4 linked regions of the Homo sapiens genome follow. The protein of the gene in region 1 interacts with the protein of each later gene in a pairwise test. Each region holds a gene or a part of one and is shown on either strand. Other genes may lie near its edges.

Region 1 (3,500 bases):
TTTCTTTTCACTGTAGCTGCTTGTTAAAGCAGTATACTCAATCTCTGATAAGCAACAGTAAATTTGATCGATTTGTATCCTAAATTTAGCTATCACTTTACATTTTGTTTTATTCATAATATGAACTTTAGCTTCTAAAAATCAACTTTTTAATAGCTTAATATATAAAGCCATCTTAAATCAAGGAATATCTATAGGGACTTAAGGTAATATTCAACTAAATTGGCAAGTGACTACCATTATCCTATTAAAGCTCTAAAATGCAATATTTCAATCACAGAAAAAAAATCTTATAATTTAAAGAACTATAAATTGCCAGATGTTTCCCTAGTTATTACGTTAGTGACAAATTAGACAACTGGAAATAGAAAACAGAGTATATGTTTGGAACAGTCATAAAAGGACTAGTGACTATTGCTGCTAGCTGTGGTTGTATTAACATTAAAATATTTGCTATGGGATTTTTCTTCTTATCAAAGCAGATGCTCAGATGAGGAAAAACTTTCTTGCATATGAAAATCAAAATTGTCTTCCAAAATATTTAAGTAACAAAAAATTCATTATGTAGTATAAATGCTGTATGATTACATTATTCTTATAGTTAATTTAGAAGGGTTTGAATTTGTTTTTGTTTTGTTTGTGTTTGTTTCTTCGATAGGTGCATTCTCTAACTGTCTTAAGTAGAAACAAATGTCTAGAATCTCTCAGTGATTATCAGTCTCCTTCCTATTACCAAGAATGTTTTTATTGTGTTGTTAATCTCACATGTAATTTTTTTAACATTTAAAAGTTTGGAAAATGGGTAAAAAATGAGTGTGCCTTGTTTCCTATTATTACAATGTGCCTTCCTATTTCAAGTCCCAATTCTAGATTTCCTTAAAACTTAAAATCATAGAATTAATAATCTTTCAGTTTAAGTCAACTTTTGTGTGATTTCTTGTCCACTTATACACACATAGATGCCTTCATCTTCACCAAATAATGTAGAAATTTTATTTAGTTCAATGGATTTAAGTACTCTGTATGCTTAAGTACAAAATAAGAATATTGAGAAATACACATATGATTGTGTACCTTTTTTTTTTTTTTTTTTGAGACAGAGTCTTGCTCTGTTGCCCAGGCTGGCGTGCAGTGGCATGATCTCGGCTCACTGCAACCTCTGCCTCCCAGGTTCAAATGATTTTCCTGCCTCAGCCTCCTTAGTAGCTGGGATTACAGGTGCATGCCGCCACGCCCAGCTAATTTTTGTATTTTTAGTAGAGAAGAGGTTCGCCATGTTGGCCAGGCTGGTCTCAAACTTCTGACCTCAAGTGATCTCCCTGCCTCGGCCTCCCAAAGTGCTGGGATTACAGACATGAGCCACCTCACCTGGCCTGATTTTGTACTTTTAAAGAGAATTTGTTGTTGCTAATTTGCTAAGTTTATTTAGATATTTTCTGATTCTATATTAGTCAAAGCTCCTCTTATCTACTTTGGAAAATGAAGAATTATGTCTATAAAATATATCAACAACAGCTGCAGGTACTTACAGAGGAAATACTGTGGATCTGAGTGATATTAGGCCCTGAGGATACAAGCCAAAGTATAAAAATGGTCTTTGCCGTAGAGAGATAGTAGTCAAGCTAAGCACATATTTTGGCATGGGTCTCTAATAGCCTAATGCTAGTAGGGTGGGAAGCCATTTAAAAATGGCCCCTCCTTCTGTCCTGCCTTTCAGACCAGATGGTGTGTCTAAAGTGGTCACACTGTTTGGTTCTGGCCACTTCTGTAATAACCACTGCTCCTTTCCCCTCCTCGTGAGATTATAACTCCTTTGACAGTATGGATGGCACCTAACGCATCCTTGTTTTCTTTTACTAAATGTTCCACGGAGTCACTTGCTTGCCTGTTTGTTGCTTATTTGTTTGTTTTTGGCTAAAACTACAGAAAATGTTAAATACATTTTCAGACCTTTATATTTTAAAAAAGAAATGTTAAGAAATAAATAATTTTTCTAATCTCATTTAGATACACTGTCCTATTACACACAATGACAAATTTGATGCTTTTGTCTTGCTAATTGAAGAGCTAAGCATGAATACAGTTTTTCAGTCTACAGCAGCAATGACAAGGGTAAAGTGGAGAAAAGAGTAAGGAAAGAAAAAATTAAAAAGAATAAAAGGTTGAAATATCAAATCGGTGGTTCTTAAGATGACAGAGGCAGGTGAGACAAGAATACTGGAATCACCCAGGGGGCATATGAAATCTGTACATTTCATCCACACCTTCTTTTCTCCCCCTGTCCTCATTCCCCCTGTTGAGACACATTGTATTACAAATTAGGAGGAAACCATCTAAAATTATCTCACGTATCCCAGTTCCCATATTAGCATCATGAGTATCACCTGAGAGTTTGTTGGAACTGCAGAATCTCAGACCCTGTCCAGACCCATTGATTGCATAAGAATCTGCATTTTAGCAAAATCCTCAGGTGATTCAAATGCACATTAAGGGAAAAGAAACACAGTGTACCGTACCTGTGGCTTGTTTAGAATAATTATGAAGAGGTGTTTTCTTGGCTCTTAACTAACGTTTTTAATAAAGCTAATATTTATTGAGTACATAAATGTGCCAAACACAACGTTCAGTCTTTCTTTAAATTTTTTTTATTTAATCCTCACAACAACCCTGTGAGATAGTTTCTGTTTTATCCTTATTTTATAGATTGGGATACCAAGTAATAATGAGATAAGTAGTTTACCCAAAAGCTGTAACTGATACAGTCGAGATGTAAACATAAGAATTCTAATTTCATTGCCTGTTCTCTTAGCTGTTACCTACAGTGTCTGCTCTATACTGGGCTACCTACTTTTTAAGGCCAACTAATTATTTGAAAATTTATTTAAAGTTTTAATTTGAGATCAAAATCTGTTTCCCTCATAAATTTTTTTTAAAAAAAGCAAACAAGATCTATTCCATTTTGATCTAATGTTTTCCTGTCACCTTACCTTTAAGTGCAATAATGGGAAATTCTAGAAATTCCTTCTTTAACTGTTTGAAAAAATACCAAAACTATGACAGCCTGTCCAAATCCACTAAAATATATTTTTATATGCATGCTTTTTGTATATCAATTATACTTCAATAAAGCTTTTTAAAAAAATAGTAGATGACATACTTTTAAAAATTAACTTTGGAGCCCAGGTATGGTGGCTCAGACCTGTAATCCCAGCACTTTGGGAGGATCACTTGAGGCCAGGAGTTTGAGACCAGCTGAGGCAACAAACTGAGACCCCCATCTCTACAAAAAATAAAAAATTGCCAGAGCATGGTGGCGCACACCATGTAGTAGTTGGGACCTGTAGTCCCAACTACTCAGGAGACTGAGTTGGGAGGATTGCTTGAGTCTGGGAGGTGAAGGCTGCAGTGAGCCATGATCACACCACTGCACTCCAGCCTGAGCAACAGAGAAAGACCCTGTCTCGAATAATAATAATAATAATAACAACTTTTGATATCTC
Region 2 (3,500 bases), on another chromosome or scaffold:
ATGGTTTGCATCTACCATTATACAGTATGGATATTCAGCATGACTAGATTAGGGCATAACAGAAATGAAGCCCAGTATTGTAGGTTAAAAGGTTCAAAAATCTGAAGTGTGAAGTACTACAGATTACATTTAAATCAGAAATATTCCACAATCTGAGCCATGCATTGTTACTGAACTTACTAGTCAGTGTTTCTACCACAAAACATTCAGTGAACTAAGGTTATGGTAAAACTGTTTGGGAACCTCTCTCTTCAAACAACTCTGAGGTGAGTCAAACTGACTCCACCCCACAGGGGAGGTTCAGCTTATATGTTTTTTTGTGTGTTTTTTGTGTGTTTTTTTTAGACAGAGTCTAGTTCTGTTGCCCAGGCTGGAGTGCAGTGGTGCAATCTCGGCTCACTGCAACCTCCGCCCCCCAGATTGAAGCGATTTTCCTGACTCAGCCTCCGAAGTAGCTGGGATTACAGGCGTGCACCACCGCACCTGGCTAATTTTTTGTATTTTTAGTAGAGAGCTGGTTTCACCACGTTGCGCAGGCTGGTCTCGAACTCCTGAGCTCAAGCAATCTGCTCGCCTCAGCCTCACAAAGTACTAGGATTACAGGCATGAGCCACTGCACCCAGCCAGCTTATATGTTTTATGGAGATGGAGATTTCAGATGATTCAGATCTGTCATCTTACAGATGAAAGTCTACAAAATGAATTAGTAATAATTCAACAGGTATTTATTGAGTGCCTACCACGTGTCAGACACTGTTTTAGAAACTGGGCTTAAAGCAGTGAATAAAACAGAAAAAATTTCTTGCCTTTATGGAGCTTACAACACAGAGGGGAAGGCAGACAATAAGCAAAATCAATAAGCAAAATGATGACAATAATACAGTGGTGACAGTGCCTGATTAAACAAAAAAGAAAGCAACCAAATTGAATGCTAACCAAAGAATATTCATGTCACTGGGAAGAGCATGGTAAAACTGTCTATGCTTTAGCAGGACACAAACTGGTCAGTTTATCAAGCTTTGCTTTTCTCTTAACTTCTTTGAACCTTTAATACTCCAAAAGTTTCAAGTTAGGTGTAGAATAATCTCAGGTAAAACTAAAGTTAGAAGTCCTATTCTCAGAATACTAACACATCCTCTGCTGAGCACCATGATAGCCTGACAGACTTCAAACATTAAGGATTCTCTAGGCTGGGTGTGGTGGCTCATGCCTGTATCTTAGAACTTTGGGAGGCACAGGAGGGAAAATTGCTTGAGTCCAAGAGGTCAAGATCAGCCTGGGCAACATGCTGAGATCCTGCCCCTACAAAAAATAGAAAAATTAGCCGTGCATGGTGGCACGTGCCTGTAGTCCCAGTCACTTGGGAGGCTGGAGTGGGAGGATTGCTTGAGTCTGGGAGGTCAAGGCTGCAGTGAGCCATGGTCATGCCACTGCACTCCAGCTTGGGTGACAGAGTGAGAAAGAGAAAAGAGAAGAGAAGAGAAGAGAAAAGAGAAAAATGAAAAAAAGGAAAAAAGAAAAAAGATTAATATGACATGGCTACGAGATATATTAAAAAAAAACTCTAATAATGTTCCCTAATAAAAATATTATAACTTACTATTTAGGGTATATCTTGTTTTTTCTGGGGACAAGCTTAGAGGGCAAACAGAGCTCAGTGCTGCATTCATTTCTCAGTGATTGTGAGATGCAGGCGCTAATCATTACTATCAATCAAGCTTTCCCACATGTAGAAAAATAAGGTAGCATCATCATCTGTGCTTTAACTTTAATTATTTTGTTTAGAATTTCAGCAAATGAAAATACCATTTTTGGCTAGCTGAAACCCTAACAAACTTGGACACAGCTGACCTGTACCAAGACAATGGGAAAAATTGGGCTGGAAGTAAAAAGTTTATAAAGGCATGAAAACATTAAATAGAATGAAGACCAAAAACTAATAAGCCTTTTAGAACAGCTCCGATAAGCAAAGACTCTTCCAATTGGTCAGTATGGCACTTGTAGTCACTGCTGTTGCCCAAGTCAGTACCTGGCAAAAGGACAGAAAAGTCCAGTGAATCTGAAGGCAGTTAGCTCTTAAAATACTATACACTGTAAAGCTGTCTGGTGGAATAAATCTGGATTATTTTATGTCTCAGAAAATGTCTACTATCTTTCTTTTCTCAAAAGATTCATCCCTTCACATGCACTCTAAGAGCCTTTCAACACTACTCAAAACAAATCGCCATCAAAACTCTCATTATGAACATTTTCTAAATTAGTTCTTTGCTATAATGGAATTTAGTGTGGATATTCATTTTCAAGAGTTCTAATCACTTAAAAACATGGTGCTACTCTAATTATTAACAAATAAAGTCATAGATCTAGTAGATTTACTAAAAAGGGAATCAGCTGAGTGTGGTGGCTCATGCCTGTAATCCTAGCACTTTGAGAAGCCAAGGCAGGGAGACAGCTTGAGCCCAGGAGTTCGAGACCAGCCTGGGCAACACAGTGCGACCCCATCTCTACAAAAAAATTAAACAATTAGCCAGTCATGGTGGCATACACCTGTGGTCCTGACTACTTGGGAGGCTGAAGTGGGAGGACTGCTTGAGCCCAGGAGGTCGAGGCTGCAGTGAGCCATGCACTCCACCCTGGGTGACAAAGCAAGACCTTGTTTCAAAAAATGGGGGGTGGGTGAGAATCGATATATGGTAAGAGGTAAAAAATGTCATATCCCCACAATGATCATGAACATGTTCTCAAACTTATCAAGTACTCAGCTCCATGATTACTCATCTTCTTAAACTCTAAATACTCCACTGAGATATATTATCTGAAACAAAGACTAAGAAATTAAGTTGGTAGTCATATTCTAAATTCTAAATTTTTAGACCCAAATAAAAAATTCTTTTATATTTTTGAGAGATGGAATTTCACTCTTTTTGCCCAGGCTGGAGTGCAATGGTGTGACCTTGGCTCACCGCAACCTCTGCCTCCTGGGTTCAAGCGATTCTCCTGCCTCAGCCTCCGGAGTAGCTGGGATTACAGGCATGCGCCACCAGGCCTAGCTAATTTTGTATTTTTAGTAGAGACGGAGTTTCTCCACGTTGGTTAGGCTGGTCTGGAACTCCCAACCTCAGGTGATTCGCCTGCCTCGGCCTCTCCAAGTGCTGGGATTACAAGTGTGAGCCATTGCGCCCGGCCAAAAAATTCTTATTAAAAAATTCGAAGTCGGCCAGGCACGGTGGCTCACGCCTGTAATCCCAGCACTTTGGGGGCCGAGCTGGTCCTGATCACGAGGTCAGGAGTTCAAGACCAGCCGGATCAACATGGAGAACCCCATCTCTACTAAAAATACAAAAAAATTAGCCGAGTGTGGTGGCGCATGCCTATAATCCCAGCTACTCGGGAGACTGAGGCAGGAGAATCGCTTGAACCCAGGAGGTGGAAATTGCGGTGAGCCAAGATCACACCACTGCACTCTAGCCCAGGCAACAATGTGAGACTCCATCTCAAAA
Region 3 (3,500 bases), on another chromosome or scaffold:
CATAGCTCTTTCTACAGCTTTTTTTTTCTGATTATAAAAATTACATTAAAAATGGGACATTCAAAAACAGAATAAAAGCACACACAGAATAAAATAATCTGTAATTCTGTTCCTTGAGATGATTCTGCTACAAATTTTATCTTTCCAGTTTTATTTCTGCATGTGTATGCATTTTAAGGAATATTAAGGCTATACTATGACATGCTATCTTGTAAGTTGTTGGCACTTAATGTATTAGGCACAGTTAATTTTGTTAACATTTATTTCATAACTAGATTTTTATGTCTGCATAATATTGCAGCATGAATATACTATAAAATATAACCAGTTTCTTACATTTGAATATTTATTTTCTTCTGGGCTTTATTATAAGTGATTCAATAAAAATCCTTGTACAGTAGGTTTTTTTATGTATCCCTGGTTGTTTCCCTTGGATAAATTTCTACAGGTAAAATTGCTGAATCAAAAGGGATAAACAGTTTTAGGATTTTTGGTACATATTTCCAGACTGCCTAAGAAAGCAACCATTGTACCCTTGCTAGCCGTGTATGACAGCCTGTTTGGCCAGCTTTCCACCAATCTGAATATCCAATGGATAGAGTAAATATGCTTTTTAAACCTCTTTTAGGCTCTTTCATTTAAAAATGATCAAGATTAAAAACATTTTTAAAACATTTTTGATGTTACAAATTCTTTATTTTATTTTACAGATATACCATTGTATTTATCTATTACGCATTCTGCTTGGTATTAATGATGCTGCTCCGACCTCTTCTGGTGAAGAAGATTGCATGTGGGTTAGGGAAATCTGATCGATTTAAAAGTATTTATGCTGCACTTTACTTCTTCCCAATTTTAACCGTGCTTCAGGCAGTTGGTGGAGGCCTTTTATGTAAGTTTGATGGGTAAAGTCAATGAAATATATTTATTATTGTATGTAGTAATATTTCCTCTAGATTTAATTTTGGAGATTTTTCCTTAAGATAGTTTGTTTAATCCTTTTTTTTTTTTTTTTTTTTTTTTTTTGTGATGGAATCTCACTCTATCACCAGGCTGGAGTACAGTGGCATGATCTCGGTTCACTGCAACCTCCGCCTCCTGGGTTCAATTGATTCTCCTGCCTCAGCCTCCCAAGTAGCTGGGACTACAGGCATGTGCCACCACACCCAGCTAATTTTTGTATTTTTTTTTAGTAGAGACGGGGTTTCACCATGTTGGCCACATTGATCTCGATCTCCTGACCTCATGATCTGCCCACCTCTCTTTGCATTTGAAGTTCATGACGAAATTAAAATATTTTAAAAATCTAAGTATGTAATAAGAAATAAAAACTGGTTTTTATTTAGGAATTTATGAAAATTAGTCTTGATAATGTATACTGTTTATTATTAAGTAGGGTCTTAGGTTTCTAAGTGTATTTATGAAAACCTTTTATAGTAAAAAGTCCTCAATATATCTTTTATTTTAATGTAACCATTAATTCATTTGTTTAGTAACCATTTAGACCAAACTGTGACTCAAAAGAATAAGACAAATTCACTGTTAAAAACCTCACTTACTACCAGGAGATAAAGTAGGCAAGCCAGTGGCTGAGAAAATGTAGTGTGGTTCTTTTGAATATGTGACATTGAACGTCCCAAGGATGTTGGACACCATCCTTTATATGGAGCTTGGTAATGTAATTTGGTAATATAGTTTGGGAATGTAATTTGGTTCAAGGTGATGGTGGGGCTTGAGGGTAAGACCAAGGGAACCAGAAATTCTGTTATCCGCCATATTCTGGTTTACAGATGAACTGTTTCATTTGGCCTGCACAGGATTTGAAAATCTATAGTTCCCTCTAGCTCCTCTATTTCCCTGTTAGATTTGGCCCATTCCCTTATACCTTCCTGGCTACCCTCTCTGTCTTTTGAGGTTGCCATTCTTGCTCTAGGGAATAGGGACCTGTTCTTAAAAGGATTTAGGCAGAAGAGTGACATGATTACATTTGCACTGATTTGCACTAATTTGGGCTTAGTTAGAAACTTCCTCTTTATTCCTTTTTACTGTATATGGCTTTTTACTACCAGGTCTTAAATTTGTATCATTAGCAACATTGTTTAGCTACTTATAAGTTAAGTAGAGTTTTTGTTTTGTTTTGTTTTGAAAAGTTGATTGAGGACCTAATAACTGTCTATGAAATAAAAAGTTATAAATGTCAAATAAGTCATTCAGTTCTTTAGTAAGTTGGAATCAGGCCTGTATAGATAATTCAGTTTCTAGCTGCTGAATCCTGAGTTAACATTTGAAATTGTTCCAAATGGGTTCTACTGCAATGATAAGTAGTTTCATAAACTGAAGTCATTTACAAATAATGTATGAAAAAAATTCAAAGTTTTTTTCTCAATTTGTCCATTTATTTTAGTGTGTTATAAATTTGAAACATTTTAAGAGAAAAGTGGTGTTTTAGAGGAAAAAATTTGCTTAAAGTATTACTGTACTGTATTTAAAGTAGAGATTGCAGGAATTTTGATATTAAGAATACTGAATGATCTCTTTATCCTTTAAGGTTTATTGCTAAATGACCTTTTCTAAAGATTAATTAAAGCTGAGTTACTCTTATAGATAACCTTTTTCAACTGCGGTTCCCCACCTTGACCACAAAACACAGAAAATTATTTGACCATTTTTTTGAATTCTCCTAAATTTAGTACATAACTGGTACTATTCTAGAATGCAGAGGAGAGAAGTTAATTATTTACATTCACTGGATGCCTTAATAAGGCAAGGTTCTTCAAAGCTGGCCCAAGGATAGTTTTTACAATTTTTTATGGTTAAAAAATCAAAAGACTTATATTTCTAGATGTGAGTATGAAACGTATGTTTTATTGTCCATAAAGTTTTTATTGGAACACAGCCGTGCCCATTCATGTATGTATTCTCTATGGCTGCTTTCCCACTACAACTGCAGAGCTGGGTAATCGAGACAGAGAAATGCAGGGCTGAAACTATTTACTATCTTGCCCTTTCCAGAAAAAGCTTGCTGGCCACTGCCTCAGAACCTTAGGTTGTAAGTCTCACAGAACTGGTTGAGAAAGGATTTGACTCTAAGGAAAATTACTATTTGAATTTATTTGATGGTTTATTGAGAAAATTTGTTTCATTTCCAACATAATACCAATGCTTATCTTTCAGATTACGCCTTCCCATACATTATATTAGTGTTATCTTTGGTTACTCTGGCTGTGTACATGTCTGCTTCTGAAATAGAGGTAGGAAGTCTTTTTTTCCTTTGTTAAAGACTTTTTGATAAATTTGACAATTCAATATCAGAATAGTCCATATGATATGATATAGTACAACTAATTGTTTTAGTAATCTTTGGCTGATTGATGCCACTTGGTAGCTTTTGGCTTGTTAACTTTATGAAAAGTTGTGTACTGGACTATATATTTCCCTGGGAAATTAGCAAAATAGTGAAGTAGTCAGGCCCAACTATCCAGCATGAAGGAGAAATGTCA
Region 4 (3,951 bases), on another chromosome or scaffold:
AGGAGGATCACTTGAGCCCAGAAATTTGAGACCAGCCTAGGCAACACAGTGAGACTCCCATCTCTACAAAAAATGAAGAAAATTAGCCAGGCATGGTGGTGTGCACCTGTAGTCCCAGCTACTTGGGAGGCTGAGGTGCAAGGATTGCTCGAGCCTGGGAAGGTTGGGGCTGCAGTGAGCTATGATCGCACTACTGCATTCCAGCCTGGGCGACCCTGTCTCAAAAACAAAAACAAAAGAGAGATGAAGAGAGAAAGGAGGAAGGACCCAAAGAAGGGGCCAGAAGCAGAGAGAGGCCAGGCACAGTGGCTCACGCCTGTAATCCCAACACTTTGGGAGGCCAAGGCAGGAGGGTCGCTTGAGTCCAGGAGTTCCAGACCAGCCTGGGCAACCTAGTGAGACCCTATCTCTGTTTTTTTTTAATTAAATATAAAAAATACAACACTCCCACTCCATAGCAAGACCCCATTTCTACAAAAAATACAAAAATTAGCCAGGCATGGTAGTGTGCACCTGTAATCCCAGCTACTCAGAAGGCAGAGGTGGGAGGATAGCTTGAGCCCAGGCTACAGTGAGCTGTTTTCCCCACCGTACTCCAGCCTGGGTGAAAAGTGAGACCCTGTCTCAAAAAGAAACAAATATATAAATAAAATAAAGAAACACAGAGAGAGGGAGGATAGAGACCCCAGGAGGCAGGAGGACAGAGACCCAGAGGAGGGAGAGACTCTGCTGAGATAAGGGGACAGAGATGGGGAGTAGCAGGAAGGTGGGGACAAAGACCCAGAGAGGAGGAACAAGAGACCCAGGGCAGGAAATGGGAGACACAGCTGGATGCAGAGATGGGAGAGCTTAGCAGGCCATGAGGTCAGAGTGTCTGTGAGGTCAGCTGCTGTCCAGGGTCAGCCCTGAGGTCCCCATGCCCAGAGGTGGGTTCCAGTAGATCAGGGGTCCCTTTAGATCCCCCAGCGCCTGAGACATGGAGACCTGGGAGGGACTGCCCCATGAGTCCTTGGTGCCCACAAATTCCAAGGCCCCTCAGGTACCAGAGCATGTGTCCCAGTGGAGCAGGTGAGGGAGACAGGGACAGAGAGAGAGACAGAAAGCCACCTTACATGAAGCGGGAGTGGGTGGAGCCCCACCCCTGGAACTTCCTCTTTTGGGGTTCTTCCTTTCTCTCTCAGCTCTCCGTCTCTCTTTCTCTCTCAGCCTCTTTCTTTCTCCCTGTCTCCCCCACTGTCAGCACCTCTTCTGTGTGGTGAGTGGACCGCTTACCCCACTAGGTGAAGATGTCAGCCCAGGAGAGCTGCCTCAGCCTCATCAAGTACTTCCTCTTCGTTTTCAACCTCTTCTTCTTCGTGAGTTGCCTCATGGCTACCCAGCCGGGGCCCAGCCCCTGCCGCTAACCCAGCCCTCATCTTCCCCTGTGGCCCACCCCCGTATCCGCATCTCCTCTCCCCAGGTCCTCGGCAGCCTGATCTTCTGCTTCGGCATCTGGATCCTCATTGACAAGACCAGCTTCGTGTCCTTTGTGGGTGAGGGGGGCTGGGGCAGGTGGGAGGGCCTCCCCCAACCCAAGCAACTTCCTGGGGTCTCCCTTGTCTCAGGGAGACCTACGGTGCCCTACTCTGCAGGCAGGCTACAGGCTCCCATCCACTGCTCACCGGAGGCTTCTTGGAGCCTGAGTCTTCTTCCGGCAAATGGGGTTGTGCATACAAACAACAATGATCATGAGAGCCATTTCTCAAGCACTTCCTATCTGTCGGGACTTGTGGCTGGTCAGATGCCCCCACAAACCTTCCCCTCGCTTGAGGTTCAGAGAGGGGAAGCCCCTTGATGGATGTCATACAGCAAGGACGTAAAAGAGCCAAAATAACATTAATAATAGGAAAATAATAATGAAGTATGACCCTAAATAATAATGAAATATAACCCTAAACGCTCATATTTAAGAAGTCTTTGCCCTGTGTTGAGGACTGGGTTGAACACATGTCCTCATGTGTCTCTCAAAATGACCCTAGGGGCCGGGCGCGGTGGCTCACACCTGTAATTCCAGCACTTTGGGAAGCCGAGGCAGGTGGATCACTTGAGGTCAGGAGTTCGAGAATAGCCTGGCCAACATGGTGAAACCCTGTCTCTACTCAAAAATACAAAACGTTAGCCAGGCATGGTGGCACATGCCTGTAGTCGCAGCTACTAGGGAGGCTGAGGCAGGAGAATCACTTGAACCTGGGAGGCAGAGGTTGCAGTGAGCCGAGATCACATCACTGCACTCCAGCCTGGGGGACAGAGCGAGGCTCCAACTCAAAAAAAAACCCTAAGAAATAGATATCATCTCCTATGCCTCAGGGAGGTTTAAGGAGCCAAGCCAATGTCACAGAACAAGTGATAGGGCTGAAACTACTGGGGACGAGGAGGAGCTGAAGGAGGAAGGAGAGGGTAAGAGGAAGAGAGACAGAGATCCAGGGACGGGAAACAGGCCCAGAAAGAAGAGAAAGTTTCAGAAGGAAACAGGGACTCAGGGTGGGGCAGGGACAGAGTCCCAGAGAGAGGGGCACCAAGATACTGCTCCCCACTTGGGTGGCTGCCTAGGTGGGAAATGGGGCTGCCTGGAGCTGTGCCACACAGCTCATCATCACTCCCCTCACCTCTCCCAGGCTTGGCCTTCGTGCCTCTGCAGATCTGGTCCAAAGTCCTGGCCATCTCAGGAATCTTCACCATGGGCATCGCCCTCCTGGGTTGTGTGGGGGCCCTCAAGGAGCTCCGCTGCCTCCTGGGCCTGGTGAGTGCACCATCCCTCTCCGTCCCTAGGAACACTCCTATCCCCACCCTCAAAAATGGCCTGGGCCGGGGTTGCAGGGGTGGTCAGCCTGATCTCTCCACTCTGCTCCCCAGTATTTTGGGATGCTGCTGCTCCTGTTTGCCACACAGATCACCCTGGGAATCCTCATCTCCACTCAGCGGGCCCAGGTGAGCTTCCTGCAGTGGCCACCACCCACCCCCAGCAGGGAGGAGAGGGAAGGGAGTGGTGGGAGAGGGTGGAGAGAGACCGAAACAAGGGCAGACAGGGGCTAACCTAGATAAAGAGAAATAAGAGGCTGGGCCTGGTGGCTCACGCCTGTAATCCCATAATCCCAGCACTTTGGGAGGCTGAGGTGGGAGTCCAGGAGTTTGAGACCAGCCTGGGCAACATAGTGAGACCCCATCTATATTTAAAAAAAAAATCCGGGTGTGATGGTGTGCACCTGGGGTCCCAGCTACTTGGGAGGTCGAGGTGGGAGGATCACTTGAGCCAGGGAGTTTGAGGCTACAGTGAGCCATGCACTCAGCCTGGGTGACAGAGTGAGACCCTGTCTCAAAAAATAAATTAATAGAAAGACACACCGACCTGGACCAAGGGAGACAGGCATAAACAGCTCCAAAGGGAAACACACGGGAAAAAGAGAGAACAAGAGAAAGAAATAGACGCCCTGAAAGAAGAGACAGAGACTTATGAGCCGTAGAAATAGTGGAAGAAACAGAAAGACAGACCTGAAGTACACAGAGCTAGCCATTCAGTAAGGATTTGAGACTGGCCCAGAGATGCACAGGGCCCGCCTGAGGCTGGCACAGCCTGAGAGGGGGAGGGGTGGGGCGGGGAAGATAAGGCCCAGCCTCACTGGTGGCCTCTCAGCTGGAGCGAAGCTTGCGGGACGTCGTAGAGAAAACCATCCAAAAGTACGGCACCAACCCCGAGGAGACCGCGGCCGAGGAGAGCTGGGACTATGTGCAGTTCCAGGTAAGCCCCCCTCCTCCAGTTCCCTCCCGGACTGACCCGCCTCAGCCCTGTGCTTGGAGGAGACTCCACCCCAACGTGGGCCCGACCCCCAGCTCTACGATCCTAACACACCCCAATCCCTCCCAGGCCCGACGCTCCCCACTCCCCAGATGACACAACTGTCCCCGGCGTCGCCT

The links. The genes of interacting proteins can lie anywhere in the genome.
Region 2: the proteins of AGTR1 (region 1) and RTN3 interact in a two-hybrid assay, tested with the Homo sapiens proteins (one large-scale study listed by BioGRID and IntAct).
Region 3: the proteins of AGTR1 (region 1) and JKAMP interact in a two-hybrid assay, tested with the Homo sapiens proteins (one large-scale study listed by BioGRID and IntAct).
Region 4: the proteins of AGTR1 (region 1) and CD37 interact in a two-hybrid assay, tested with the Homo sapiens proteins (one large-scale study listed by BioGRID and IntAct).

The regions. Positions count from the first base shown.
Region 1 is NC_000003.12:148,700,903-148,704,402, forward strand, and holds part of AGTR1 (type-1 angiotensin II receptor), read left to right. Parts: intron 1-3,500. UniProt on the Homo sapiens protein: Receptor for angiotensin II, a vasoconstricting peptide, which acts as a key regulator of blood pressure and sodium retention by the kidney.
Region 2 is NC_000011.10:63,712,500-63,715,999, reverse strand, and holds part of RTN3 (reticulon-3), read right to left. Parts: intron 1-3,500. UniProt on the Homo sapiens protein: May be involved in membrane trafficking in the early secretory pathway. Inhibits BACE1 activity and amyloid precursor protein processing. May induce caspase-8 cascade and apoptosis.
Region 3 is NC_000014.9:59,498,017-59,501,516, forward strand, and holds part of JKAMP (JNK1/MAPK8-associated membrane protein), read left to right. Parts: intron 1-710; coding exon 711-892; intron 893-3,174; coding exon 3,175-3,251; intron 3,252-3,500. UniProt on the Homo sapiens protein: Regulates the duration of MAPK8 activity in response to various stress stimuli.
Region 4 is NC_000019.10:49,334,255-49,338,205, forward strand, and holds the start of CD37 (leukocyte antigen CD37), read left to right. Parts: upstream 1-1,151; 5' UTR 1,152-1,286; coding exon 1,287-1,355; intron 1,356-1,459; coding exon 1,460-1,532; intron 1,533-2,654; coding exon 2,655-2,779; intron 2,780-2,892; coding exon 2,893-2,967; intron 2,968-3,670; coding exon 3,671-3,775; intron 3,776-3,951. UniProt on the Homo sapiens protein: Structural component of specialized membrane microdomains known as tetraspanin-enriched microdomains (TERMs), which act as platforms for receptor clustering and signaling.